Linked DNA regions of Homo sapiens. The protein of the gene in region 5 interacts with the protein of the main gene of each other region in a biochemical or structural test. Each region holds a gene or a part of one and is shown on either strand. Other genes may lie near its edges.

Region 1 (4,054 bases), on a different chromosome or scaffold from region 5:
AACTAAAAGAAGGTCAGGTGTGGTGGCTCACACCTGTAATACCAGCACTTTGGGAAGCCCTGGCCAGAGCATCACTTGAGTCCAGGAGTTTGAGGCCATTCTGGGTAACACAGCGAGACCTCCTCTCTACTGAAGAAAAAAAAAAAAAAATCAGCCAGGCATGGTGGTGCACGCCTGTAGTCCCAGCTACTTGGGAGGCTGAGGTGGGAGGATCGCTTAAGCCTAGGAGGTTGAGGCTGCAGTAAGCCGTGATTATGCCCCTGCACTCCAGCCTGGGCAACAGAGTTAGACCCTGTCTCAAACAAGCAAAAATGTAATATGGAAAAATGCATGCAGCCTTGCTAGCAACTAAAGAAATACATTTTAATGTGACTTCTAGACACCACTATGAACTGTATTAAAATAGCATAAAAATGCTTAAAAAAACAAAATTGGCAAAGATGATGGATTACAAATATACTTTTATAGTACTAATGGCATTTTGTAAATTAGCTCAATTTTTGGGAAAGCAACATGACATTTATGAAAATAGCAGTTAACACTTATTGCGTACATAATATGTGCTAGGTGCTAGGCTGGATCCCAGAAACTATCCATTCATGATCTTGAATTCTTAAAAAAAAATAAATTTTTCTTAATAAGTTCCTTCATTTTACAGATGAGGAAACTAAGGCTTAAAAAAATAAAATGTTAATAAACCTGTAAGAGTGAGGCAGGCAAATCACTTGAGGTCAGGAGTTCAAGACCAATCTGGCCAACATGGTGAAACCCTGACTCTAATTTAAAAATATATATATATACACAAAAATTAGCCAGGAGTGGTGGTGCACGCCTGTAATCCCAGCTACTCAGAAGACTGAGGTAGAAGAATGGCTTGAACCTAGGAGGCGGAGGTTACAGTGAGCCAAGACTGCGTGTGCCACTGCACTCCAGCCTGGACAACAGAGCCAGACTCTGTCTTTGAAAAAAAAAAAAAAAAGAAACCTATAAGAGGTTGAAGCCCAGAAGATGTTTCTGTCATTCAAATACAAAGCCCTGCATGTTCCCTCCTACCTCGGGACCTTTGTCCAGAATGTTTCTTCTCCCCAGAATGTTCTATGCACGAGCACAGCCCTCCACAAATTAATACCTATATCTCTCTTAGATATCAGCAACAATATCACTTCCTAAAGAAAGGGTCATCGATACTCACCCACTAGATCTGATCCCTCTCTTATACTCTCTCGAAACCTATACATTTGTAATTACACCATTTTTCTGAGCATTTATTTTAATTTAAATATATCTCAGGCCAGGCGCAGTGGCTCAGGCCTGTGATCCCAGCACTCTGGGAGGCCAAGGCGAGCAGATCGCTTGAGCTCAGGCATTCGAGACCAGCCCGGCCAACATGGTGAAACCCAGTCTATACAAAAAATACAGGCCGGGCGCGGGGGCTCACGCCTGTAATCCCAACACTTTGGTAGGCCGAGGTGGGTGGATCACCTGAGGTTGGGAGTTCGAGACCAGCCTGACCAACATGGTGAAACCCCCGTCTCTATTAAAAATACAAAATTAGCCAGGCCTGGTGGCGCATGCCTTTAATCCCAGCTACTTGGGAGGCTGAGGCAGGAAAATCGCTTAAACCCGGGAGACGGAGGTTGCAGTGAGCCGAGATCGCGCCATTGCACTCCAGCCTGGCCAACAAGAGCAAAACTCCGTCTCAAAAAAAAAAAAAAAAAAAAAAAAGTTAGTTGGGTGTGGTGGTGGCACATGCCTGTAGTCCCAGCTACTGGGAAGGCTAAAGGGGGATTACTTGAGCCCAGAGAGGTCAAGGCTGCAGTGAGCCATGATCATGCCACTGCACTCTAGCCTGGGCAACAGAGCAACAGAGAAAGACCCTGTCTCAAATATATATATAAAATAATAAAATAGAGGTATTCAGGTCTCTTATGTCCAATTTTACTGTTCCTTCCCCTGTACAACCAAAGATTTTATATATATATATATATATATCTCAATCACTAACACCCAGCTCCAAGAGGGCAGGGATCCTATCTATTTGCTCTTTACAATATCCCTGGCACCTAACAGTGCTAGGCACCTATTAGGCAGTCCTAATATTTGCTAAAGCAATGAATGCCAATTTACCTTAATTTAAAAAGTATTAAATCCCTTAACCAAAAGATATAATTGACAGTTCTCAAATCAAAACCTTGAGCACTTTCCATGAACAAGACACTTCACTAGAGCTGCAATTATTCTTGTGTGATGTATCAGAAATATTTGTTTGTATCTACCCTTTGACCCAGCAATTCCATTTGTCAGAATTTAGCTGGCAGGAAAAACTCTCATATGTGAAACGATATATTAGTAGGCTTAAGTAAGTAACAGGAGATCTTGGATGCTTTCTTTATAAAGCTTGCAGCCTAACCAGTGAAACTGACATTGGTCAAATTATCTGATTCCAAAAATGTTATGATTACAAACTGTGATAACAGGTACAAAGAATGGCCGGGTGCAGTGGCTCACACCTGTAATCCTAGCACTTTGGGAGGCCGAGGCGGGGCAGATCATTTGGGGTCAGGAGTTGGAGACCAGCCTGACCAACATGGTGCAACACCATCTCTACTAAAAATACAAAAAAATTAGCCGGGTATAGTGGTGCATGCCTGTAGTTCCAGCTACACGGGAGATTGGGGCAGGAGAATCTCTTGAACCCAATGGGTGGAGGTTGCGGTGAGCCAAGACTGCACCACTGCACTCCAGTCTGGGCAACAGAGCGAGATTTTGTCTAAAAATAAAATAAAATAGAGATATTCAGGTCTCTTATCTCCAATTTTACTGTTCCTTCCTCTGTACAACCAAGCATGTTTCTTCAGACATAAAACGAATTATTCTCATCTCACTTTGGGCTGGAATGGATCAAAGTGCTAGACAGAACTTATTTCAAAACAAAGCAGAAGTAGGAAGGAAAAAGGTACAAATCAAGAATTACTAAAACTAATTTTCATGTTCCTGAAAAGGCCCGTATCTTCAGAACAGGGCATTACCCTATAACCAAAAAAGGTCTCTTTACATTTCTCTCAACTTTAAACTAGCAGATGCTAGACGAATTTCCATTACGCATTCTCCCAACAAAAGGCTAATCAACAACACTGGGAGAGGAAAAACAATATTCCCACTCATCATGCTCCCAATTTCAGTATAAATTAAATAATTTAAAATCTGGCACTTAGTCTATCTATTTTCCGAGTCGATAATCGAGATCATTCCCCAAAAAAACTTCAAAAAAAAAAAAAATCAAAGGTTGTAAACTAGTCCTCAAGATTTAAAATTAAGTAAATCTTTTTTTTTTTTTTTTTGAAACGGAGTCTCACTCTGTCGCCCGGGCTGGAGTGCAGTGGCACCATCTCAGCTCACTGCAAGCTCCACCTCCCGGGTTCATGCCATTCTCCTGCCTCAGCCTCCCGAACAGCTGGGATTACAGGCGCCTGCCGCCACACCCGGCTAATTTTTTTGTATTTTTAGTAGAGACAGGGTTTCACTGTGTTAGCCAGGATGGTCTCGATCTCCTGACCTTGTGATCCGCCTGCCTCGGCCTCCCAAAGTGCTGGGATGACAGGCGTGAGCCACTGCGCCCGGCCTCAACCTTTATTATATAATTAAATAGCACAGATTTTAGGAAAGAAGAAAATTATTTTAAAGTATATACTTAGAGCATAACTACTCAAGTAACAAGATACCAATAAAGCTGTTAAAATTACAAAGCCAGGTGCTGTGGCACTCACCTGTAGTCCCCACTACTCAGGAGGCTCAGGTGGGAGGACTGCTTGAGACCAGGAGTTTGAGACCAGCCTGAGCAACAAAGCAAGACCCCATCTCTAAAAAATTTAAACTATAAGAAATATATTGTGGGCGCAGTGGCTCACACCTGTAATCCTAGCACTTTGGGAGGCCAAGGCAAGAGGATCACTTGAGGTCAGGAGTTCAAAACCAGCCTGGAGTTCAAAACCAGCCTGGCCAACATGGTAAAACCCTGTCTCTACTAAAAATACAAAAAATTAGCAGGGCGTGA
Region 2 (4,054 bases), on a different chromosome or scaffold from region 5:
GAATAACAGTTCCATTTTCATAGATCAGCTTATTAGCATTATTAGCTTATTAGAGGTACCCTATTAATGAAATTTAAGGTCCCTGTAAAGATAAAACTGACTATGAAATTACTGTCTTTAAAAGAAGTCAGTTGTAGGCCGGGCACAGTGGCTTAAGCCTGTAATCCCAAGACTTTGGGAGGCTGAGGCGGGCAGATCACCTGAGGTCGGAGTTCAAGACCAGCCTGACCAACATGGAGAAACCCTGTCTCCAGTAAAAATACAAAATTAGCCGGGTGTGGTGGTGCATGCCTGTAATCACAGCTACTCGGGAGGCTGAGGCAGGAGGATCGCTTGAACCCGGGAGGTGGAGGTTGCAGTGAGCCAAGATCATGCCATTGCACTCTAGCCTGGGCAACAAGAGCAAAACTCTGTCTCCAAAAAAATAAAAAAAATAAAAAATAAAAAAAAGTCAGTTGTATTGTAACTCCCTTCCTACAGACACCTCCCCATAGAATAAACCCAGAATAAGGATGACATTTTTGGTAAAACTATTCACTATATCAATATTACACATTTTCCCTGATATCTGTAGATCTGGACAAAACTAGGTAAAAATCTAGTTCAAGTATCGTGTAACTTACAGTTATGCACCACCTACCAACGTTTCAATTATTTAACAATGGACCGCATATGACAGTAGTCTATGATTATTTTTACTGTACCTATGTTTACATATCTATGCTTAGATACGTCTTAGATACACAAATACCATTGTGCTACAGTTGCCTACAGTATTCAGTAGTTATATGCTATACAGGTTTGTTGCCTAGGAGCAATAGGCCATGCAAAGCTTGCCTGTAGCCCGTAACAAATTCATAAACTTTCTTAAAACATTATGAGACTTTTTTGATTTTTTTTTTTTTGGCTCATCAGCTATCATTAGTGTATTCTGTGTGGTGTGGCCCAAGACACTTCTTCCAGTGTGGCCCAAGGAAGCCAAAAGATTAGATACCCTGGTCTATACCATATAGGCTAGTTGTGTAGTACGCTCTAGCATCTAGTTGTGTAAGTACACCGTGAAATTCACACAATGAAACAGCACATTTCTCAGAACATATCCCTGTTGTTAAGCAACACATGACTGTACTTAGTCTTTACTTTTAAAATTTCACTAAATGCAATGTCCTTCATCAGTTTATGTCAAACACTGCATAAAGGGAAATGTACTCTTAAATGTACATTAAAATATACTGAACTTCCCTACTTTATTATTATTTGTTTTTTTTTGAGACGGAGTCTTGCTCTGTCGCCCCAGGCTGGAGTGCAGTGGCATAATATTGGCTCACTGCAACCTCCACCTCCCGGGTTCAGGCGATTCTCCTGCCTCAGCCTCTCAAGTAGCTGGGACTACAGGCGTGCGCCACCATGCCTGGCTAATTTTTGCATTTTTAGTAGAGACGGGGTTTCACCATGTTGACCAGGCTGCTCTTGAACTCCTGACCGCAGGTGATCTGCCCGCCTAGGCCTCCCAAAGTACTGGGATTGCAGGTGCGAGCTAACATACCTGGCCGAACTTCCCTACTTTATAAGCTATAAATTAAAATTACTTTAATGACATTACACACACACACACACACATATATATGCATACAATATATACACACACACTAATCTAAGCATAGCACTTAAAACACCATAGTTCACATTCAGTGTTAAATTTCCTTCTCTTGAAACAATTTTAGCCAGAGATTATATTGTACATGTATCTAGGAAGAGAAAATTCTAATTCTGTAGCTGCTAATGCTTCTACCTATCAAAGTCTAAGAATTATACTAACCTTTGTTTATGGGTTTAACTTCATTAACATTTACAGGTGTAACAGTATTTCCTGGAGATTCAAGTCCACAACCATTAGTTGTGTTATCACTTTCACACTTCCCCAAGTCCTCTTCAGGATCACATTCATTTTCTTTAGATTGTCCTTTGACTCCTTGGTTTGTTGTTATTTTTCCCAGACTACAAAATTTAGAAAGAATGCTGGGTTGCTTAGTTGCAGACTTTAACCAATTTATTTTAACTCTTGATTTCTTTTGTGAGGGTCTTGGACTCTCATTTTCAGAAATATACTTGGGAATTATTTTAGGAGGACTCTCTAATGTATCACTTGTAGCTTTTCTTTTTGATCTAGTTTGTCTCTGGTTCTCTTCCAATGACTGGTGTTCCTTGGATAATTTAACTTTTTTCTTCATGTTACCAAATTCAGTGTCACTTTTTCTTTTCCCATTTCCTTTTGGGAGTTTCTCTTTAAAGTCTTCAGAATGCCTCATACTGTCCATCTCTATGCTGTTAATACCATTCATTTCCTCTTTCGGATGAGGTATTTCTTCTACCTTAGTAGGTAATTCTGCCACATTTTTTACTTCTTCTTTTTTTAGGAGTTGGCATGTTTCTTGAATGTTTCCCAAAATACATTGTAATACTTCCTGTGCATCATGCTGTAGATATCCTTCATACATAGGGTTGAGTTCCCTATAAATAAAAATTTCCATTTCATCTATTCTAGTTTTGAAGATACAGTACATAAAGCCTATATAGAAATTAATTCATGTAAGGAAAATCATAAATTATTTCATTTTTTAAATGTCAAGACATTTATTCAGCACTAATTTGGAATTTCTTATCTGTAACTAAAAGTAAGAGTAAATTGTACCCTATTTTCATTATAATACTTTGATCCTCTTCTAAATATATTAATAACTAATACTTAGATAATGCTTACCATACACCAGGTTTTAGTCAAAATGTTTTTTATCTCCTATGTATACATTATCTTCACAATAACCCTATGAGGTACTATTATCACCATTACTGACAGATACAAGCACTAAGGCACAGACAGGTTAAATAACTTGCCCAAGGTCACAGAACTACTTAGGATGAAAAGCCAGTATTCAAACCCGCTCTTGGCCACCACGCTACAATGGCCTTTTTTTTTTTTTTTTTTTTGGAGACAAGGGTCTTGATCTGTTGCCCAGACTGGACTGCAATGGCGCAATCTTGGCTCACTGCAACCGCCGCCTCCCGGGTTCAAGCGATTCTCCTGCCTCAGTCTCCCGAGTAGGTGGGACTACAGGTGCAAACCACCACACCCAGCTAATTTTTGTATTTTTAGTAGGGGCAGGGTTTCACCATGTTGGCCACACTGGTCTTGAACTCCTGACCTCAAATGACCCACCTACCTTCACCTCCCAAAGTGCTGGGATTACAAGTGTGAGCTGTGACCGGCCTACAATACCTCTTAACTAAGGTATAGCAATATATTGCACCTAGTTCTATTTTTAAACTAAATGCTTAAGTGATTGTTTTAAAGACTTGCCCTATAATTGTATTTGAATAAGGCTATTTTATATGTAAAGTTTCATTTTTAAGAAAATACCAAAAAGCAATCTAATCCAGTTAGCCAACAGTTCTCCTCTAATCACATATAAAAATAGAATATTTGGAATTTACAGTTCTTACACATATTTTGAATATAGTCCTATAATTCTTAATGTGAAATCCTTAGGACCACGCATTTAGAAATTCAGACATTTTCAGATTCAATGATTATATGGCATATAAGTAAAATATTTATCACCGACTTGATATGGGAGTACTCTATAACTAAACACATTACTACTTCTATAGAAGCATGTATGAATATTCACGTTAGAGATAAATATGAATGACTATAAAAAGCCTCATATAATATGTTCAGATCTAACGAATTTAGCACCAAATTTATGAAAAAAATTTCCAGTATTCAGAGTCTCTGGGATATAAAGGACTGTGGACCTAGAGTTTCTACTTTCCTTGCCCTTTATTCCTGTTTCTTCGCATGTCATTCTCCTCCAAGGATATAAACAAGTAGCTAAATTGAAACCCTAAAATTATATTATAGGCTATACCTCAGTGTGTTAAGCAGTCGCCTTGGCTGAGTGGCAAGTTCATCAGTATATTTCTCTGGATTTAAGAGAAAACTAGCCTGGAGCTGTTCAACCGAAATGATTAAGGACTGTAAACTGCATATCAA
Region 3 (4,054 bases), on a different chromosome or scaffold from region 5:
GCTCCTGCCTGCCCAACCCTGATTTCTAAGATGTTTCCTGCCTGTAGAATCCTAGGTAGATGAACAAACAAAAAAAGGATCAGGGTAAGAAAGGAGGGAGAATAAGGGAATACTGACTGCCCAGTCCTGGATAAAGAGGTCAGACACCTGGGGTAACAAGGGCTTCTCATTCTCATATCCAATACGTTCTTTATCCCGGCTCATACAAGGCACCAATTTCTCCCCATATTAAAGCAGTGATAATTTCCTCTTGCTCCTATTGAATAGAGACAAACTGAGGCCCTGGAAAGGAGGGGCCTGTGTGAGTCACTGTCTGTGTGATCTTTTCTTTTTTTTCTTTTTTGAGATGGAGACTCACTCTGTCACCCAGGCTGGAATGCAGTGGTACAATCTCAGCTCACTGCAATCTCCGCCTCCCAGGTTCAAGCAATTCTCCTGCCTCAGCCTCCTGAGTAGCTGGGATTACAGGCACGTGCCACAACACCTGGCTAGTTTTTGTATTTTTAGTAGAGATGGAGTTTCACCATGTTAGCCAGGGTGGTCTTGAACTCCTGACCTTAAGTGATGCTCCTGCCTTGGCCTCTCACAGTGCTGGAATTACAGGCATGAGCCACCGCACCTGGAGACTGTGTGACCTTTTCTCACCCAAAACATATCCTCAATGTTAAAAGCACCTAAAACACACTGCTGCCTCAGGATTTTTGCATTTGTCGTTCGTGATGTAAAGATGACCCTTTACTCTGCTATCTGCATGACTTACTAGCTTCCTACCTATTCCCTTATCAGAAGGGTCTGCTCTGACTAGTCTATTTAGAGCACAGCCACCATACAATCACTCTCCACATATTCACCTCATTAGGGGGTCTTGCTCTGTCGCCCAGGCTGGAGTGCAGTGGCGTGATCTCGACTCACTGCAAGCTCCGCCTCCTGGGTTCAAGCCATTCTCCTGCCTCAGCCTCCCGAGTAGCTGGGATTACAGGTGCCTGCCACTATGTCCGGCTAATTTTTTTTGTATTTTTTAGTAGAGATGAGGTTTCACTGTGTTAGCCAGGATGGTCTCGATCTCCTGACCTCATGATCCGCCCGCCTTGGCCTCCCAAAGGGTTGGGACTACAGGCATGAGCCACTGCACCCGGTCTATTTTACTTCTTACACCACTTAATACAGATCTTTACTTGTTTGAATCCTCGCAGTGAAATGTAAGCTCCATGAGATCTGAGACTTTTTGTTCATGGTTGTATCTTCGGCAGCTAGCATAGAGCCTGACATATAGGTCCTCAACTTTGGATGAATGAGGGGGTCAGAACCCCCTCATCCTCTACAGTGATCATCTGTGACCTTTCCATGAGCTCTTTCACCTCTCTGCCATCACCTTTGCATCACTCTCTGGTATCTGATCTCTAAGACTGTGAAAACACTTCCACTTCTTAACGGCCCTGCTCCACATAGAGCCCTCTCACCACATGCTCGCCTTCTCAGAAAAAAACCAAAGAAACAGCAATGGCCACAATAAGGGGTGGTAATTTTTTTGTTGTTGTTGAAACTGAGTCTTGCTCTATCGCCCAGGCTGGAGGGCAGTGGCACTATCTCGGCTCACTGCAACCTCTGCCTCCCGGGTTCAAGCGATTCTCGTGCCTCAGCCTCCTGAGTAGCTGGGATTACAGGTGAGCGCCACCATGCCCAGCTAATTTTTGTATTTTTAGTAGAGACAGGGTTTTACCATGTTGGCCAGGCTGATCTCGAACTCCTGACCTCAAGTGATCTGCCTGCCTTGGCCTCCCAAAGTGCTGGGATTACAAGCGTGAGCCACTGCGCCCAGCCTGGGGAGGTAATATTTTTACAACTCATGATTCTGTAACCAGTTGTGATTTAGAAATCACATTCTCTTGCTTTCTTTATCCCTCATGGACAACTCTGCATAAATAAGAGTATTCTCCATTCTTTAATAAGAAGAGACATTAAGTGACTTTACACAATCATGCACCTTGTAAGTTGTAGAATTGGCATAACCTAACCTTTCCAGGGTGCTAGTTCAAAGCTTCGTCCTCAAACTCATAACTTTGACCAAAGACAGTCAGTGGTAAAGGCTGTGAAAGTCAGGCATGGACCAAGTGCTTTCGAAGTATGGAAATGAGAGAGATCCTATTTGATGATGGGATTTTGCCAGGGCCTGTCTTAAACTTCAGCAGGATCCTAAGGGGGTCCATATGTAAGGAGAGGTGGCCGGTAAGGCAGTTGAGACCTTATATCTTCATTGAGAAATATGACCTTTATTGTCTATTTTTCTTGGAAGAGTTGTTGATAAATTACGTTACCATTGTTTAAAATCACACTGAGAATACTCTTTAGAAAATTTTTAAAACTGTTTCCAGCACTGAGTTATTTTCACTGGGAGCCATTTGTTCTGCTTGTCTACCTGGAGTTGTGTTTGGGCCACCAAAGAAGAGCCAGCTAACACTGCCTATGTGAAGCTCTGGCCCTGGTTCCAGGCGTGACCTCGCTGTTCTGAACAGGCCACAGTGCGTAGGGAGCAGGCAGAATTCTCTAACTTGTCTTTGGCTGGTTTCCCAGCAAAAGTAAATGTACACTGATGTAAAAAACAGTCCGTGTGGGCCTCAACACAAGGCCCTGTAAATTGTACCAATTTACCCCCATCTTGAGGACCTGGTGGATTTAAAAAGTATATCAAACTGCCTCCCAATAACAACACTCCCCTTAGAAGAAAGGGCCTGAGAAAGTGTCTCAGATAAGGGTAAGAAAAAGTCATGGGATGTAAGCATAAGCCTCCTAGCGGCCCTGCTGGGGGATCTAGCGAGCCGAAAACAGGTTCTTGGCGCTGCCATCTAGTGTTCTGTGGTGCTTCTGCAAGTACTAGCCTGGCTCTTCAGCTTTGCCATGCTTAGCAGCAGCGATGCTCACAGCAAATATCTACAGAAAGCCCATTAGGTATTCAGCAAGAATTTAATTATTTTGTACATAATAACTCAATAATTCCACATAACAACATTATGAATGTCCCTTAAATCTCATCTCATAGTTGTATAAACTGGTATTTAGTAGATCTTTCAAGTGGCGGGGCCGGTGTTGAATGCAGATACGCAGGCTGCAGAGCTGGAGCTCTTATTACTCCCTTATATTCCTCATCTCCATAAAGGGTGCAAAATATAATTAACAAATTAATGAACTCTGTGCATCTAACTGGTAGTACTAATTGGTGTTACAGACGTATTTACCTATCATCTGAGAGTCTGTTTAACCAAATTAATCACACCTGTGGGAACTGCACTATTATTTCCTTTGTTAATATCTCCTACCATACCCACATCATCTCACTTAGCACACTGCACTATAAGGCTCTATTGCCTTTGATAATAGAGGCAATAGAGGCTCTAGAGGCAATAGAGGCTCTATTTATCTTCCAGGTGCCCCAGACCTTAGCACTGCAGCTAACACAGGAAATGATCAATTAACTTTATAATGGATTGAAAATTATAGCTTACTGCTGAGCTTATAGTTGGCCTTGATGTTGGCACTAGAGTATAGAAATAAATGTGCTATCTTATCAAAGTGTTACTGTTAAAAAATAATTGTGTTGGCCGGGCGCGGTGGCCCAAGCCTGTAATCCCAGCACTTTGGGAGGCTGAGGCAGGCGGATCACAAGGTCAGGAGATCGAGACCATCCTGGCTAACACGGTGAAACCCTGTCTCTACTAAAAATACAAAAATTTAGCTGGGTGTAGTGGCGGATGCCTGTAGTCCCAGCTACTCGGGAGGCTGAGGCAGGAGAATGGCGTGAACCCGGAAGGTGGAGCTTGCAGTGAGTCGAGATCGTGCCACTGCACTCCAGCCTGGGCGACAGAGCGAGACTCCGTCTCAAAATAAATAAATAAATAAATAAATAAATAAATAAATATAATAATTGTATTGGTATTATATTTTAATTGAAAGTCCAATTCCAATTCATCCTCCCCAACAAACACATGCACACTTTCATTTCAGGCAAAACTGTATTTAGCGTACCCAATTCTCTTGAAGGAGAACTACTGCCTCATAA
Region 4 (4,054 bases), on a different chromosome or scaffold from region 5:
ATGTGCTTATAATACCTACATTAGCCTACTGTTCCGCAAAATCATCTGACAACACAGTCCACTATAGAGTATTGGTTGTTCACTCTCGTGATTGTGTGGCTGACTGGGAGCTGTGACTCGCTGCCACTGCCTAGCATCACCAGTGTATCATAGCACATATTGCTAGCTCAGACAAAAATCAAAATTCAAAGTATGGTTTTTACCAAATTTGTATTGCTTTTGCACCATCTTAAAGTAAAAAACTTGTATATCAAATCCTCTCTGAATAAATATACAGACTATTTATTTACCTTCATGCTAGATTGTTAGGGAGAACCCATCAAAATTTGCCTCCTGCCAAATTCTGCTGTACTCCTTTTAGCACAAAGAAGTAATTTTTATCTCACAATTACCTTAAATATCAAAGCAAGATGATTGGAGTGTTTTTCTGCATTCCATGGTGGTTTTGCACAAGCCATTTCTATAATAGCACAGCCAACACTCCATACATCACAGCTCCTTCCATACTGTTGACCTCTTAGTACCTAAAATAAATCAGAGTTAATTTGGAAATAGGACTCATTTGAAAAAGAGAAGGCCATTTTGTAGTTATAGATTCTACTTCCTTACTTTAGGGAGAAAACTGGTACAAACAGGAATTCTGTGGACTACCTAATATCTAATTTATTTCATTAATGAGCTTAATTTTCCAGGTAGCACAAAAATATTTTGGAGAATTGTGAGATTCTGAAGCAGAGTCCCATCACAGAATTTTGCTCTTAGCAAACTATGTGGCAAGAGGACAACAGATCATTACTACATATGAACATGAAGAATTATGAACACGACAGAAGAAGCTGAGTCAGAAGAACAATGCTTAAACTCCTTCCACTACAGACAGGAGCTGCCTCTGTATGCTCATCTCCTTTTAGAATAGAGAGAGAATATTTTTAAAAATTTCTTATGTGCACTTTGAGTTTATTACAAAACAACTGCTATAAATTACCCCAGAATTCTTTATTAGTAACAGCCGTTAAGTAAATCTATTAAAACCTGTTTTTTGAATATTGCCAAGGCAAAGAAAGGTCGAGAATAAGGGTCTGAAAGATATTATTAAAACCGTATTTTAAGGGCCACGGACTTCTAGTTGGTAAGTACATACTGGATACCACTGCAAGATAATTTAGTATAATGCTGTTACACAGAATTCCAAAATATTTTCTGTCATCACACTCAAAGATGCTTCTCACCTCAGGTGCCATAAATGCAATTGTCCCCAGTAATTGTCCCTGAAACTCTCCTGCACCAGTTCCTTTTGATGCCAACCTGGCTGCAGCTCCAAAATCTGCAATTCTTAGTCTCTGACCAGTGCTGTCAATTAGCAAATTGGCACCTGTCAACAAACACAGCAAATGACCTTGTATGTTAAAAACAAAAATAAGGACAGATAAAAGCCCAGTACAATACTAATGAACTAGGACAATGACAAAAGAAAGAAGTGAACTACATGTCAGAGGTGCAAACAGTTATTCTCTTTTCCTTTCACTTCATTCTTGCTAAAGGCACACAGCTCTCTCTAGCGTACGCTAAATTCATAATTAGAGCTTAATTTAAAAAGTTATAAAATTACTTCAACACATTATGTCAAATACTAGCTAAAAAGACTAATGACAGAAAACCAAATTTGCTCTTGAGAAAAATAAACTGAGGCCAGGTACGGTGGCTGACGCCTGTAATCTCAGCACTGTGGGAGGCTGAGGCAAGCGGGTCGCTTGAGCCCAGGAGTTCAAGACCAGCCTGGGGGCAACATGGCAAAACCCCATCTCTACAAAAAATATAAAAAATTAGCCAGGCATGGTGGTGCACACCTGTTGTCCTAGCTACTTGGGAGGCTGAGGTGGGAGGATCACTTGAGCCCAGGAAATGAGTTACAGTGTGCCAAGTTTGCAACACTACACTCCAGCCTGAGTGACAGAGAACCTGTCTCCAAAAAAAAGAAAAGGATAAGGAAAATAATGGGACCTACAAAGGATTTGAAGGAATTTTTCTTAAAAGAAGTTGATGATATCCCAATATCCCAATTATTCAAAATAAAACCAGGAAAAGGAACTTTCTGGGAGTCAGCGTATCATGAGGCCAAGACAGGGAATCTGGAGACCTGTGTTGTATACTTTCTGCCATTAACTAGCAATAAAACTGTAGAAAAGGCACAGCCTCTCTTGTATTCAATGTACTTTTCTATTAAACGAGGAAGGCAGATTAAATGATCCCTAAGGCTCATTTCAGTTCTAATATTCTGAATTACTCAGAGAAAAAAATCCCACTGTTAGAAACTATCAACAAAGGTCCATTTTTTTGTTCTTCTTTGAGACAGAGTCTCACTCTGTCACCCAGGCTAGAGTGCAGTGGTGTGATCTCAGCTCACTTCAACCTCTGCCTTCCGGGTTCAAGCAATTCTCCTGTCTCAGCCTCCCAAATAGCCAGGATTACAGGCATGCGCCACCTTACCCTGTTAATTTTTGTATTTTTAGTAGAGACAGGGTTTCACCATGTTGGCCTGGCTGGTCTCGAGCTCCTGACCTCAAGTGATCCACCTGCCTTCACCTCCCAAAGTACTGGGATTACAGGTGTGAGCCACTGTGCCTGGCCCCAAATTTTAAAATTAATTTTTTTATTGTCACTAGATAATAATTAGAAGAATTCTCACCTTTGACATCTCTGTGAATGATTTGGTTTTCATGGAGATACGAAAGGCCACGGAGTAACTGTTCAGTGTAGTTAATAACTACTGATTCTTTGAAGGCTCCATATTTACTCAGCAAATGAGCCACCGATCCCCCTATAAGACAATAGAAATAATTATCATAAACTTAAGACAGAATTAAAAGTATTTATTACACTTTGGTTTCTAAAGTTTTCACTGCATGAACTCACATTCACATCTGAAACAGAAGAAAAACATTTCAAAACTAACATATTCCTGTATCATCTCAAAAACCTACTAATTAGGAGACATTTTCACAGAACCCACAGGGAAACCAGTTTATTGGAGAGTCAAGATTTCAGAAAGCTGTAAAAGTTAACAATTTCGGATTAAACTATTTCTGAAATGTACAATTCAATTCTCTGTCTTCTCAAAATACACAAAACAACTTTATTAATGACTAAAGTAAACAATGTTAACATATTATGTAGTAAAAGGTGGAAAGAATGGGAGGAGGAACAGAAAACCCAGAGTTAGGCGTCATATTCTACCATTTACTAGCTCTGACCTGGAACATGTCTCAAATTTAGCCGCTTTTAAAAGTGTTTATAGTAGTCAACCTATCTACTGTAGTGTAAATCTTTATTAAGACCAACCAACAGATAACATACTTAAGAACTGACTGGTAAAGAGAAATGCACTCTTAAATACACACACAAATCTAAGAAGTTAAACCAAACAATCTGTTCATCACATCAGGTCATTAATTTTATTGTATACATTGTATAATACAAAATAAAACTCAGTCTTCATTTATTTCAGCAGATGACAAGGTTCAACTTTATGCTTCAGTGCTAGTTTACTTGTAGTAAGTTTTCAAGTTATATGTTAATTTTGTTTGTATATTGTTATGTTAAAACACTTCCTCATCTGTCCAATTTATCATGGCTACCTGGAAATATACATATCTTATACATATCAAGTATTAAAAACAACAATGCTACACAATCATTTAAAAACACACTGGAAAAATTTAAAAGGTAGAGGTAGTCAATATTTCATTTATAGTAAATGAAATACAAAACGAAGTATTTGTGGTTCATACTAATATATTGGGGTGATTTGTTTTTAGAAACCCAAACTATTTGATAGAAATAAATTTTAATTAAACTGGTTTTTCCTAAATTGCAGAAAGTTAAATCCACGTACTACTATTTTGTAATTTAAAACATTAACATACCTGCCATCCATTCAATGAAGAGATTGTAATTGCTCTTCTCACACGTGGCTCCCAACATCCTAATGATGTTTGGATGATTCAGATGGCTCATCATTCTTATCTCTTCTCTTAGTGCTTCTACTACTTCTTCT
Region 5 (4,054 bases):
GATTTGCTACTACAGCATCCTGTGGATCATCTGGCTCTGCAGCTGCCAATAGTGCTTGCAATGACAATAATACCGTGCGGAGAGTCATTGCAGCTGCCCTAAAATGCAAAACATGAAAATATCCCAATTAAGAGGGCTCTGCAGGCAAAAGCAAAGTATTTTCTTAATAAAAATTAAAAAATTGTAGAGCTAAAAGTTACTTAGATCTTTATCTTAATTATATAGTTAAGTCATAGACATTTATAATTATGTATCTGCCTATCATATATTTTCTTCCTTACTTTACAATTTGCCTATTTCTTTTTTCTTTTTTTCCCCTGAGACGGAGTCTGGCTCTGTCGCCCAGGCTGGAGTGCAGTGGTATAGTCTCGGTTCACTGCAAGCTCCGCCTCCCGGGTTCACGCCATTCTCCTGCCTCAGCCTTCAGAGTAGCTGAGACTACAGGGGCCCGCCTTAACGCCCAGCTAATTTTTTGTATTTTTTTTTTTAGTAGAGACGGGGTTTCACAGTGTTAGCCAGGATGGTCTCGATCTCCTGACCTCGTAATCCGCCCGCCTTGGCCTCCCAATGTGCTGGGATTACAGGCATGAAAAACCACCTGCGCCCGGCCTTTTTTCTTTTTTTTAATGACAGTGTCTTGCTCTGCCGCTCAGGCTGGAGTGGGCAGTGGCACTATCTTGTCTCACTGCAACCTCCGCCTCCTGGGCTCAAGCGATTCTCCTGCCTCAGCCTCACGAGTAGCTGGGACTACAGGCACACACCACCACACCCAGCATTTTTTTTGTTTTTCCTTTTTTCGTAAAGACGGGGTTTTGCCATGTTGCCTAGGCTGGTATCGAACTTCTGAGCTCAGGTGATCCATCCACCTTGGCCTCCCAAAGGTTAGGGTTACAGGTGTGAGCTACTACACTCGGCCAGCTTTTCTATTTCTTAAGACAACTCGAATTCTGAACTGTCCTTGTTTTTCTTGTTGCCAAGATCCTTCTTGTTAGTTTAGTTTAGTTTAGTTTTGAGGCGGAGTCTCACTCTGTCGCCCAGGCTGGAGTGCAGTGGCGCGATCTCGGCTCCCTGCAAGCTCCGCCTCCCGGGTTCACGCTATTCTCCTGCCTCAGCCTCCCGAGTAGCTGGGACAACAGGCGCCCGCCACCACGCCCGGCTAATTTTTTGTATTTTTAGTAGAGACGGGGTTTCACTGTGTTAGCCAGGATGGTCTCGATCTCCTGACCTCGTGATCCGCCCGCCTCGGCCTCCCAAAGTGCTGGGATTACAGGCGTGAGCCACCGCGCCCAGCCACCTTCTTGTTAGTTTTATCCACTCACTTATTTTTCTATCCATTTCTCTAAACAAAGTTAAAGTGATAAATCATTAGTACTAATAGCATGTGAGGCTTTCTTTCAATGGCACTCTAAAAACAAGATACTATGAAACAAATATATTTTCTTTTTTCTTTTCTTTTATTTTCTTGAGATGGAGTCTCACTCTGCCGCCGAGGCTGGAGTGCAGTGGCGCGATCTCGGCTCACCGGAACCTCCACCTCCCTGGTTCAAGCAATTCTCCTGCCTCAGCCTCACAAGTAGCTGGGACTACAGGCACATGCCACCATGCCCGGCTAATTTTTTGTAGTTTTAGTAGAACAGGGTTTCACCGTGAGACACAGGATGGTCTTGATCTCCTGACCTTGTGATCCGCCCGCCTTGGCCTCCCAAAATGCTGGGATTACAGGCTTGAGCCACCGCGCCCGGCCATATTTTCAAGAAAATATGAAATCATTCCATAACATTCTGAAACAGGACAAGTTTTTTGGATTAAACTACATCACTTAATTTATGATTCTAAATGTATTTATAAGGAAAATATCTTTATAAAGCTAATATTTGTCTAAAAAATAGTATCTACCTGTCTAGCAATAATTCTTGGCATTTCTGTTAAAAAAAGTTGTCTCACTGGCTGGGCGCGGTGGCTCACACCTGTAATCCCAACACTTTGGGAGGCCAGGGCGGGCAATCATCTGAGGTCAGGAGTTCAAGACCAGCCTGGCCAACATGGTGAAACCTCATCTCTACAAAAAATGCAAAAATTAGCTGGGCGTGGTGGCATGTGCCTGTAATCCCAGCTGCTCAGGTGGCTGAGGAAGGAGAATCGCTTGAGCTCGGGAGGCGGAGGTTGCCGTGAGCCAAAATCATGCCATTGCACTCTAGCCTGGGCGACAGAGCGAGACTCCATCTCAAAAAAAAAAAAAAGTTGCTTTATCAATTAATAGAGGTATGTATAAATATGTGGACATATTAAAAATGTTACATGTAAAGAGAATGCCCATTTTTACCATGTAAATTAGATCATTCTTCTTTTTTTCTTTTTTTGAGATAGGGTCTCACGCTGCCTAGGCTAAAGTGCAGTGGTACAATCAAGGCTCACTGTAGCCTTGACCTCTTTGGCTCAGGTGATTCTCATACCTCAGCCTCCTGAGTAGCTGGGACTACAGGTGCACACCACCACGCCCAGCTAATTAAAAACAATTTTTTTTTTTTTTTTTTGGTAGAGACAGGGTTTCACCATGTTACCCAGGCTGGTCTTGAACTCCTGAGCTCAAGCAGTCCTCCCACCTCAGCCCCCGAAAGTGATGGGATTATAGGTGTGAGCCACGACAACTAGCCAATTACTCTAAACCAGCCTTTTTCAACTGGGTTCCTGATTTGAACCACAAAATAGAAAAAATTAGTGACTGTTTTCTCAATTTTCCCAAGTTTGGTACATAAATAGTACTTCCCTAGATGCCTACGATAAAAGTTAATTTAGGCTGGGTGCAGTGGCTGACGCCTGTAATCCCAGCATTTAGGAAGGCCGAGGCAGGCAGATCACTTGAGGCCAGGAGTTTGAGACCAGCCTGGGCAACATGGCGAAACACTGTCTGCCAAAAATACAAAAATTAGCCAGATGTGGTGGCACATGCTTGTAATCCCAGTTACTTGAGGGGCTGAGGCAGGAATCGCTCGAACCTGGGAGGCGAAGGTTATAGTGAGTCCAGATGGCGCCACCGCACTCCAGCCTGAGGGAGACAGCCAGACTGTCTCCTACACCTCCACCCCTAGCCAAAAAGTTAAGTTATTGCCAACAACCAACAATGGATGTCTTAAAGCAATGATCTCAGTGTTGTTCATCCAACCAGCAGCATCAGCATCCCTTGGGAAGTTTTCTCTATCCCAGAGCTACTGAATCAGAAACTCCAGGGTTTGAGTCCTAGCCGACGCCGTCGCCGCGCGCGCGAGGCCTGGAACACACCGCACGAGCCGCTCCCGCCCCTACCCCTTTACGCCCACGTGGAGCCGGCCCCGCCAGCGCGAGCGCGCCCTATACACCCTCCCGCCCTGCGCCTACATGCTGCCCTGGCTCTGCCCGTGTGTGGGGGGCGCTTCCGGCCCCGCGGGGGTGGGGAAAATAGGGGATTAAAAAAAAACAGCGCGCGGAACCGGGCCAGGGTTGCCCACCCCCGCCACAATGGCCTCTGGGGTGAAGTCCTGCGCTTCCAGCTGCCCGGCCACTAGGCCGCTACGCTACGGAACATGAACAAGCTCCGGGCAGAGGAGTGGTTCTGCGACGTGACCATTGTGGCCGACAGCCTCAAGTTTCGAGGCCACAAGGTCATCTTAGCCGCCTGCTCACCGTTCCTGCGGGACCAGTTCCTGCTTAACCCCAGCTCGGAGCTGCAGGTCTCCCTGATGCACAGTGCACGCATCGTGGCCGACCTGCTTCTCTCCTGCTACACGGGCACCCTGGAATTCGCTGTTAGGGACATCGTCAACTATCTTACAGCCACCTCCTACCTGCAGATGGAGCACGTGGTGGAGAAATGCCAGAATGCCCTCAGCCAGTTCACTGAGCCCAAAATAGGCCTCAAAGAGGATGGGGTCCGTGAGGCTAGCCTTGTGAGCAGCGTCAGCGCCAACAAGTCCCTCCTCCCTCCAGCCAGGACCCCAAAGCCAGCCCCGAAGCCCCCACCCCCCACCTCCTCTATCCCCTCCACTCCTGCGGCCAGTGAAGCTGGAGTTCCCACTGG
Region 6 (4,200 bases), on a different chromosome or scaffold from region 5:
AAGGAATAAAACTCCCAAGGTAACATTTTTTTCCTTTGGTAACAGCTTATTGAGATACAATTCGCATATTGAGATAGAACTATTTAAAGTGTACAATGATTTTTCAATTCAGAGTTGGGCAATCATCACCTCAATTTTACATTTTCATTACTTTGAAAACAAACCTATCCCAGCCAGTGACTCACGCCTGTAATCCCTGCACTTTGTGAAGGCAAGGTGGGAGGATCACTTGAGCTCAGGAGCCACAGACTGGTCTGGACAACATAGCAAGACGCTGTCTCTACCAAAAATTAAAAATTAGCCAGGTGTGGTGGCATACGCCTGTAATCCCAGCTACTGGAGAGACTGAAGCAGGAAGATTTCTTGAGTCCAGGAGATGGAGGATGCAGTGAGCATGCCACTGTACTCTAGCCTGGGCCACAGACCCTGTCTCTTAAAAGAAACCTGCACCCTTTATCACCCCCTACTCCCCTCTTCCTCCCATCCCTAAGCAATCATTAATCAACTTTCTGTGTCTGTATATGTACTTGCCTATTGTGGACATTTCATATCAATGGAATCACACAACACGTGGACCTTTGTGGCTGTCTTCTTTGACTTAGCACGTGTTTAAGGTTCGTTCCTATTGTAGCATGTATCAGTAGTTCATTTTTATGGCCGAATAGTACATTTTATGGATGTATCACATTTATCCACTCATCGCTTGACGGACATTAGCGTTGTTCCCATCTTTTGATTGTTAGAATGTAATCAACATTTGTGTACAAGTTTTGTGTGGAGGTATGTTTCCACTTTTCTTAGAGGAGTGGAATTACTGGGTCAAATGGTCACTCTTGTTTGACTTTAAGGAAAGGACAGGTTATTTTCCAAGACAGCTGCACCATTTGACATTCTCACTTCTGGGGTATGAGGGAACACATTTTTATTTCCCGCTAAATCAGGTTCATTTTTTAGTTTCTGCTGGAGGCTACTAGCAAACAGCAGAAACTTGAAAGACTGTTAATATTCTTTCTTCTGGGGTTTCGGGCACCAGGGAAGCTGCGCGGCCCCTAGGAGTGCTGGGGGTAACCTCTTCAGAGGGTTAATGGGGTGGGGGGGGGGCAAGTGGCCGACGGCCTGGTGGCCAGGGTGCCCCGCGCCCTGAGGCCCTGCCCGCCTGCCAGCGCCTGCGAGCCCGAGTGACCCCTGCGCCGCGGCCGGAGCAGGTGCCCTCTGTGTCTGCGGGCCCAGCCAAGCCGTGGTGCGGACGGCGGATGATGCTGGGTGCCCGCCCCCCGGCCTGAGGCCCGGGGCTACGCCCGCTAGGCGGCGGCGCGACCGCTGGGGGCGGGGGACGAAGGCCGCGCCCCTGCGCCCGTCCCGCCAGCGTCCCGCTGGGGGCGGCGGCCTGTCCCGAGCCCGCCCAGGCTCTTCCGCGCCGGCAGGGGCAGCAGCGGGAGCAGCGCGGGGCGGAGCGGCGCCAGCAGCCAGGAGCGGCCCGGCCCGGCCCGGCGCGGCGGCGGCGGCGGCAGCGGCAGCGGCAGCGACGCCAGAGCCCGTGGGCGCCGTTCGCGAGGCCGCCGCAGAGGCCCGGCCGCAGCGCAGGGAAGCCTGGGGGCCAGAGGTCGCCGCTGCCGCCATGCCGCTGCTCTTCCTCGAGCGCTTCCCCTGGCCCAGCCTCCGCACCTACACGGGCCTCAGCGGCCTGGCCCTGCTGGGCACCATCATCAGCGCCTACCGCGCGCTCAGCCAGCCCGAGGCCGGCCCCGGCGAGCCGGACCAGCTAACGGCCTCGCTGCAGCCTGAGCCGCCGGCGCCCGCCCGGCCGAGCGCCGGGGGACCCCGGGCCCGCGATGTGGCCCAGTACCTGCTCTCAGACAGCCTCTTCGTGTGGGTGAGCGAGGCGGCCGGGCCCGCGGGGCAGGGGCGGGGTCCGCTGCGTCACCCTTTATCCGCGGGGGCGTGGTGGGCCTAGGGGCCCCTCCGCCAGGGACCCCCGAGGGCGAGCGCCTGGGGGGCGCGGCCTTGCTCGCGGGAGCGCTGCTGAGGGAGAGTGGTGAGGCGCGGGGAGGGGGAGGGGGCCGCGGGCGGGAGGAACATCGCGTGGGGTTGCGAGGAGGAGGCCCCGAGGGGCAGGCCAGCGTTGAGGGCTCCGGGAAGGGGGTCGGGGAGGCGGCGGGTGATGGTCTGCGCTGGGGCGCGGACGGGGCCTGGGGCAGGGGAAGGGGTTAAGGGGCAGTGGGGAGGAACGGGCTGGGTTTTCTGAGGGACCCTCGGGAGAAACTAGAAGATCTCAGAGGGCAGGTTCAAGGGGAGGTCGGGATCTGGGAGTGCGTTATCCCGAGGGTTGGACGAAGTAGAGTGAAGTTGAAAGCTTTTCCCACTTGGTCAGGCATGGGATTGTTAGCGGATTTTCTTCCGACGAAGAGGAGAGGGCAGAGGGGAGAATTCAGACGTTGAGTATGGGGGAATTTTCGGCACTCAGGTGTCTTTGGACATTCCGGTTGGAGAGAGGCCGTCTCCCACAACTTTTTTGCCGCTTAGTATTCGATTGTCCCCTTTGGGAGCTGTGTAATGAAACAAACACCAAACTGTGCTTCCTTTTCTGCTGCCTTTACCTGATGTTCATGACAGTTTTCCTTTGATGTCTGAACGCAGCAAAACATTCACAGTGTCAAGAGGCAGCCCATCATTTTAACTGAATGTTTCTTATTTGAGGATCTATTCTAACACAGTTTCCAGGTTGTCTGCCCCTGCGAGATAAGCAGCATTGATAAGGCACACATGCTGGTTTCGTTCATTAGAACAGATAATTTCAGACTGATCAGATCAACGGTATTTTGGCTAGAGAATTTTGCTTTCATCTTGGCCTTGAATACTTATGTAAATCCCGCAGTGATCAGAAAAGTTTCTCCAGGATTTAAAGCCTCACTTGGATTTAATATGGCTTCTTGGATCTTGTCTCCTTGCATGTTCCCATTTGGGGTTGAAAGTGGGCTGTAAATGACTGAGAGATTAATATTCCAAGTTGATAGTATGATATGCAACTCATTTGTTATAATTAGTCCCACTGTGCTTCATCAGGAAGCGGTGGGATTTATGGACTCTGTGGGCTGTAGATTAAGTCTCCTGGTCCTTCTGATGGAGAGTTTAGTAGAAGGCAGTGAAGGGTGAAGTTCCTGTTTATCTACTGCTGTGTAAAGCTGAACTTTACAGTCCTAAAGAAGGGAGAAGCGAAAGAACTCAACTCACATCTCTTGCTTAATTTCAAATCTGTTTTTGCATTTGAGTTAGCAGGTAAACAAAGTGATATGGAGAGTGTTTTTGCCATGTTAAGATTATAATGTAGTCTTTGATATTTTTTAAGTCTAAGATATAAATAAGCCTTTGAGAAGGAACCCTTATTTTATTTATATAACAACACTGGTATTGTTTAATGGATTTCCCCCCGCAGGACTTTATTTTGATAAAAGCCATGTTCAGATTCTAAAGTTAATATCTCTTCAGAAAACATTACATAAAAGCTGTTGATTTTTCTGTGATGATGATTACTTTTTAGGAAATTTCCTTTTCTTCCAGCATTTTCAGTAGAGGTCTTACCTCTGGCAGGTTTATCACTTCTTACTCTCCGCTGATGATATTTTCATTTCTCAGTTGATCCTAGTGCTGTTTTTCTTCCATCTTTCCTCTGGGGTCTCCACGTGTTTACTTTGGCCTGCTTTGGTTTCTCAGACCCTCCATGTGCTCACTGTTTGTCTCATCACTCAGTGTATATGTAGTTTCTGCTTTAGCAGCTGAGTAGAAGTGACAATCTCAAAAGCCTTCCCCAGTGGTGGGACAGATTAAGATTGTTGAGTGAATACCCTATGTGGTGGTGCCTTTGTCAACTGGATCCTCCTTGCGCCCTCCCCTAGTTCTATTGAATTCAGATTCAACTTTTTCACGAACACTGCCTGCCAAGGCCAAGCAAGACAAAACAAAGACTGATCCTTCTGCCAGTGCAAGTCCTGCTAGATATTAACATATTGTAATTCCCAAAACTTATCTTTTTAGAGCACAGTTTAGAATAATATCGGTCTGATAGCATCACAGGAGGTTTTTCATGAACAAACACAATTTAAAACCTTTCGAAGGTGTTATTTTGGGCACTTTGGAGGGCATATCTGTGAACAACACTTTCCCCTACCCTCAGTAATATGGCAAAATTTTATAGGGGATAAT
Region 7 (4,054 bases), on a different chromosome or scaffold from region 5:
TGACCACATCCATCAAATGTACAACTAAGCTAACTAAAATTCTACAAATGCATGCTAATTGAATGCATTTTAATATATTTTCAATGGCTGGATAAGCAGAGGTGATAGCTGTCACTATAGTTCCTTAACTTCTTGGTGAGCCAGAGAACCTGGATTTCTGAGCATGGGGCGTCACCAAAGGTGAAGAAATGTGTGCTTCAGGACATAGCAACAGAACTTTCCACTTGCTGAGCTTTCAAGATGCTGTCACTGGACTGGTCTTGTATCTGGAATAATGTTCTCTCACAATCACCCAATTTTTTCCAACCATGTCAGTTAATGCTAGAGGCATGGCATAGAATCTGAGCCTTTATTTCAGTCCTGTTGCCTGCAGTATGAAATTTCAGAAAGGAAATCGAGATGATGTTGAATGGGACAACTTTTGGAGTTTGCTTCATAAGAACTTTCTGGAAAGGTTCCTAAGTGAGCTCTTGAGGACAGGATGAGAAGTTGATGTTATCTTGGCTTCCACGGTGCCACTCCCAGTAGGTGCTGTGACCAGAATACGACTCTTAAAAAGAGGAACGTACCCGCAAATGTGAAGTGTATAAAAACAGGGCTTTACAAATCCTGCTCTCTTCATCTTTGTCTGGCATCTGGAACACCATGCATGCTTTCTGAACTGTAACAATCCATTGTTCATATTTCTGTGTTCCAAATTCCCTATTTTGAATTTGAGATAAGTTTTCTGTTAAAAAAAAAAAAAAAAGTTTTTCACTGTCTCATATGGTCAGTCATTTAGGGTTATAAACAGGCCTCACCCTCTAATTTTCTTTTTCTTTTTTTTTTTCCTCGAGGCAGAGTCTCGCTCTGATGCCCAGGCTGTAGTACAATGGCACGATCTTGGCTCACCGCAACCTCCACCTCCCGGATTCAAGCGATTCTCCTGCCTCAGCCTGCTAAGTAGCTGAGACTACAGGCGTGTGCCATCACGCCTGGCTAATTTTTGTATTTTTAGTAGAGACAGGGTTTCACCATGTTGTCAAGCTGGTTTCAAACTCCTGACCTCAGGTGATCCGCCTGCCTCGGTCTCCCAAAGTGCTGGGATTACAGGCGTGAGCCACTGCACCTGGCCTAATTTTCTTTCTTACTCTCTGCAAACAGGATATTCCTCCTGAAATAGTCTTAAGTCATCTAGTTAAAACTATTTAACTGGATTCAGACTGGTGAAAAGGTGGAAGCAGGGTACCTGAGGTGGGAGGAGTAAGAAAATAGAAACTCATGTGACTCCATCACCATCTCTCCATCCTTCTGCTCCTTCCCCCATTGAGATAACACCACTGTGCTGCTGGATAATATGACAACCTCCAAACTGTTCTCCCTACCTCTTGCCTTGTTCCCTCCCTTGAGTTTTAAGCAGTGCATCTGTGTGTTTGTTTGTGTGTGTGTGTGTGTGTGTGTGTGTGTTTGATTGTTTCTTGAGTACTGTGTACCAAGAATCAAAGTACCTTACATTCATAATTTCATTTAATTTTCACAACCCATGAGATACATATTACATTTCATATATTGGGAAACTGAAGTTCAGAAAAGCCAAGTAATAAGTAATTTACCCATAGTCACACAGCAAGTACGTGGAGAAAGGGCAGGAATTCAAACCCACATGTGTCAGATGCCCAAGCTCTACTGGCTCTATGAGCTGACAACCAAAGCAGCCCAGAAATAAAACAGTAGACATGAAAAACCCAACTTTGCCTTTAAAAATGAAGAAGTAAAAATAACAGGTCTCAAGAGCTTCATCAGAGGAGGATATATAAAAGCAGGAGATTGGCCGGCCGCAGTGGCTCATGCCTGTAATCCCAGCACTTTGGGAGCCCCAGGCGGGTGGATCACGAGGTCAAGAGATTGAGATCACCCTGGCCAACAGGGTGAAACCCCGTTTCTACTAAAAATACAAAAATTAGCTGGGGGTGGTGGCACGCACCTGAAGTCCCAGCTACTTAGGAGACTGAGGCAGGAGAATCGCTTGAACCCAGGAGACGGAGGTTGCAGTGAACCGAGATCACGTCACTGTACTCCAGCCTGGCGACAGAGTGAGACTCTTAAAAAAAAAAAAAATCAAGGAGGAGATTTAGGACTCAGTTCACCCTATGTTCTGCTTTGCTGTGAACTTGGGCCTCCTGTTCTCCAGAGCAGCATTCTCAGGGCCAAGCATAGAATCGGCCCTCAAAAGACACTTATCACACATGCATCTGTCTGTGTGCATCTCCTAGGATAAGCCTCAGTTGCTTGGTTCAAAGCTGGGGCATCTGCTGTGGTCCAGGCTCTGTGTAGGGTGCTGGGGATAAGATGAGGAGACTATGGCTGTGTTCTCAAGCAGCTGAGTCTGTGAGTTACTCTGGTATCAGTTCGCCAGGGCTCCTCATGAAGAGCACAGTACAACAAAAGTCACAAGCAAGAGCTGTATTTCTGGGTTAAATTCTTCCCCTCACTCATTCATTTTCAATAATAGGAACAAAGGAGGCTACCCAAACAAGTAGTATTGACATGCTTCTTTCCAAGTTGCAGCTACAGCGAGGTGGCCAGCAGTAAAGAAGATGAGCCAACAGGTACTGATTGAACCTGGGTAGGTGTAAAAATAGCCTAAGCAGTTTAGAGATGAGCAGCTAACTGGATTCGGACTGGCAAAAAGGTGGAGGCAGGGTACGGGAGGTGGGAGGAGTAAGAAAATAGAAACTCACGTGACTCCATCACCGTCTCTCCATCCTTCTGCTACTTCCCCAATTCAAACCACATCAGTGTGCTGCTGGATAATATGACAATCTCCAAACTGGTCTCCCTTCCTCTTGCCTTGTTCCCTCTAACCCATACTCTACCCAGTGGTTAGAGGGAGTTTGCAAAATTGCAGATGAGAAATCATCCCACCCCACTGCTTAAAAGCCTTTAGTGGTCCTGCAGCCAAAATCCTGCCCCAGCTCACACACTCCTCCCCATGCTCTGGCCTCTGCTTGCTTTTGCTTCTCATTTCTGGCCACTCTCCTTTCAGCATTCTACAGGACTAATGGAAGTCCCTATACTCTTTCTAGTCTCCTGGCCTTTGCATATGCTATTCCCTGTGCCTGAAACACACCTTATCACCCCCACCACACCAGCTGCTTTAGTATTAGTATTACTTCTCTAATTTTGGTCTTACCATCAGACTAGAAATGCCCTGAGGCCAGGGGCTGTATCTTAGGGTTCATGCTGTATTCCCATCACCTAGCCCATTCCTTAGCACTAAATGAATGAACATATGCATGAACACATTCGGGAAACTGCTAAATCAAAAGGATTCAGGTAGGGAAGTAGTAGAATATAACATTGGAAAGATAAGTAGAACCTGGGTGTTCAGGCAGGGCTCAGACTGCAGGTTAGAGGCGTGAAGATTATCCTGTAGGCAAAGGGTTTTTAAGCAGGACAGGGACATGATAAAATGTATTCATGAAGACTAACTAGTTCATGAGAGGTTGAATGGAAGAGAGAGCAGAGGTAGGCAAAATCAGCTAGAAGGCTGTTAGAACAATTATAATAGAAATTAAACTGTGAAAGAAAAGGGGAGAGAAAAGCAAAATAAGTGTGAGAGGAGACACTCCATGAGGTGTCTTACAGACGTCACATTTAACATCCCTAAAACTCAAAACTCAAAACCTTGTACCTGCCAAGGCTGCTTCTAGTCCTGGTACCAGGACCACCCACTGGCATTCATAGAGGTGCCTAAGCCAGATGCCTGGGGGGAAATCAGCCCCTCCTGCCCCTTTCTCATCCCCACCCAAATCCGTTTAGCCATTCAATCATAACACTCACAGTTGGAAGCATCTCACATGTGTCTCCTTCCTTCTCCAATCCATCTCTACTGCCTCTCTTTGGTCCTTCTCATTCACTGGTATCTTTATTACGTCACTAATCAGTTTTAATCTTCACTTTTTTCCCCATTGTTTTTAGGATAAAATTCAAATCCAGGCCCTTCACTGTCTTCCCCTGGCCCATCTCTAGTCGCACTCCTTTAATGCTGGGAAATGTGCTGGGTGATTGTCCC

The links.
Region 1: the proteins of UBE2K (region 5) and RNF138 form a complex in vitro, tested with the Homo sapiens proteins (one study listed by BioGRID).
Region 2: of the proteins of UBE2K (region 5) and USP1, one has a biochemical effect on the other in vitro, tested with the Homo sapiens proteins (one study listed by BioGRID).
Region 3: the proteins of UBE2K (region 5) and TRIM6 form a complex in vitro, tested with the Homo sapiens proteins (one study listed by BioGRID).
Region 4: of the proteins of UBE2K (region 5) and MAP3K1, one has a biochemical effect on the other in vitro, tested with the Homo sapiens proteins (one large-scale study listed by BioGRID).
Region 6: the proteins of UBE2K (region 5) and AMFR form a complex in vitro, tested with the Homo sapiens proteins (one study listed by BioGRID).
Region 7: of the proteins of UBE2K (region 5) and RIGI, one has a biochemical effect on the other in vitro, tested with the Homo sapiens proteins (one study listed by BioGRID).

What each region holds. Positions count from the first base shown.
Region 1 is NC_000018.10:32,098,140-32,102,193, reverse strand, and holds part of RNF138 (E3 ubiquitin-protein ligase RNF138), read right to left. Parts: intron 1-4,054. UniProt on the Homo sapiens protein: E3 ubiquitin-protein ligase involved in DNA damage response by promoting DNA resection and homologous recombination.
Region 2 is NC_000001.11:62,443,195-62,447,248, reverse strand, and holds part of USP1 (ubiquitin carboxyl-terminal hydrolase 1), read right to left. Parts: coding exon 3,930-4,054; intron 2,512-3,929; coding exon 1,820-2,511; intron 1-1,819. UniProt on the Homo sapiens protein: Negative regulator of DNA damage repair which specifically deubiquitinates monoubiquitinated FANCD2. Also involved in PCNA-mediated translesion synthesis (TLS) by deubiquitinating monoubiquitinated PCNA.
Region 3 is NC_000011.10:5,599,243-5,603,296, reverse strand, and holds part of TRIM6 (tripartite motif-containing protein 6), read right to left. Parts: intron 52-4,054; coding exon 1-51. Other genes in the region: TRIM6-TRIM34 (tripartite motif-containing 6 and tripartite motif-containing 34), read right to left, coding at 1-51.
Region 4 is NC_000005.10:56,884,696-56,888,749, reverse strand, and holds part of MAP3K1 (mitogen-activated protein kinase kinase kinase 1), read right to left. Parts: coding exon 3,924-4,054; intron 2,819-3,923; coding exon 2,687-2,818; intron 1,373-2,686; coding exon 1,230-1,372; intron 525-1,229; coding exon 393-524; intron 1-392. UniProt on the Homo sapiens protein: Component of a protein kinase signal transduction cascade. Activates the ERK and JNK kinase pathways by phosphorylation of MAP2K1 and MAP2K4. May phosphorylate the MAPK8/JNK1 kinase.
Region 5 is NC_000004.12:39,770,878-39,774,931, reverse strand, and holds part of UBE2K (ubiquitin-conjugating enzyme E2 K), read right to left. Parts: exon of another isoform or gene 3,233-4,054; intron 99-3,232; coding exon 1-98. UniProt on the Homo sapiens protein: Accepts ubiquitin from the E1 complex and catalyzes its covalent attachment to other proteins. In vitro, in the presence or in the absence of BRCA1-BARD1 E3 ubiquitin-protein ligase complex, catalyzes the synthesis of 'Lys-48'-linked polyubiquitin chains.
Region 6 is NC_000016.10:56,422,746-56,426,945, reverse strand, and holds the start of AMFR (E3 ubiquitin-protein ligase AMFR), read left to right. Parts: upstream 1-1,400; 5' UTR 1,401-1,618; coding exon 1,619-1,873; intron 1,874-1,956; exon of another isoform or gene 1,957-2,035; intron 2,036-2,211; exon of another isoform or gene 2,212-3,276; intron 3,277-4,200. UniProt on the Homo sapiens protein: E3 ubiquitin-protein ligase that mediates the polyubiquitination of lysine and cysteine residues on target proteins, such as CD3D, CYP3A4, CFTR, INSIG1, SOAT2/ACAT2 and APOB for proteasomal degradation.
Region 7 is NC_000009.12:32,480,771-32,484,824, forward strand, and holds part of RIGI (antiviral innate immune response receptor RIG-I), read right to left. Parts: exon of another isoform or gene 728-4,054; coding exon 570-727; exon of another isoform or gene 1-569.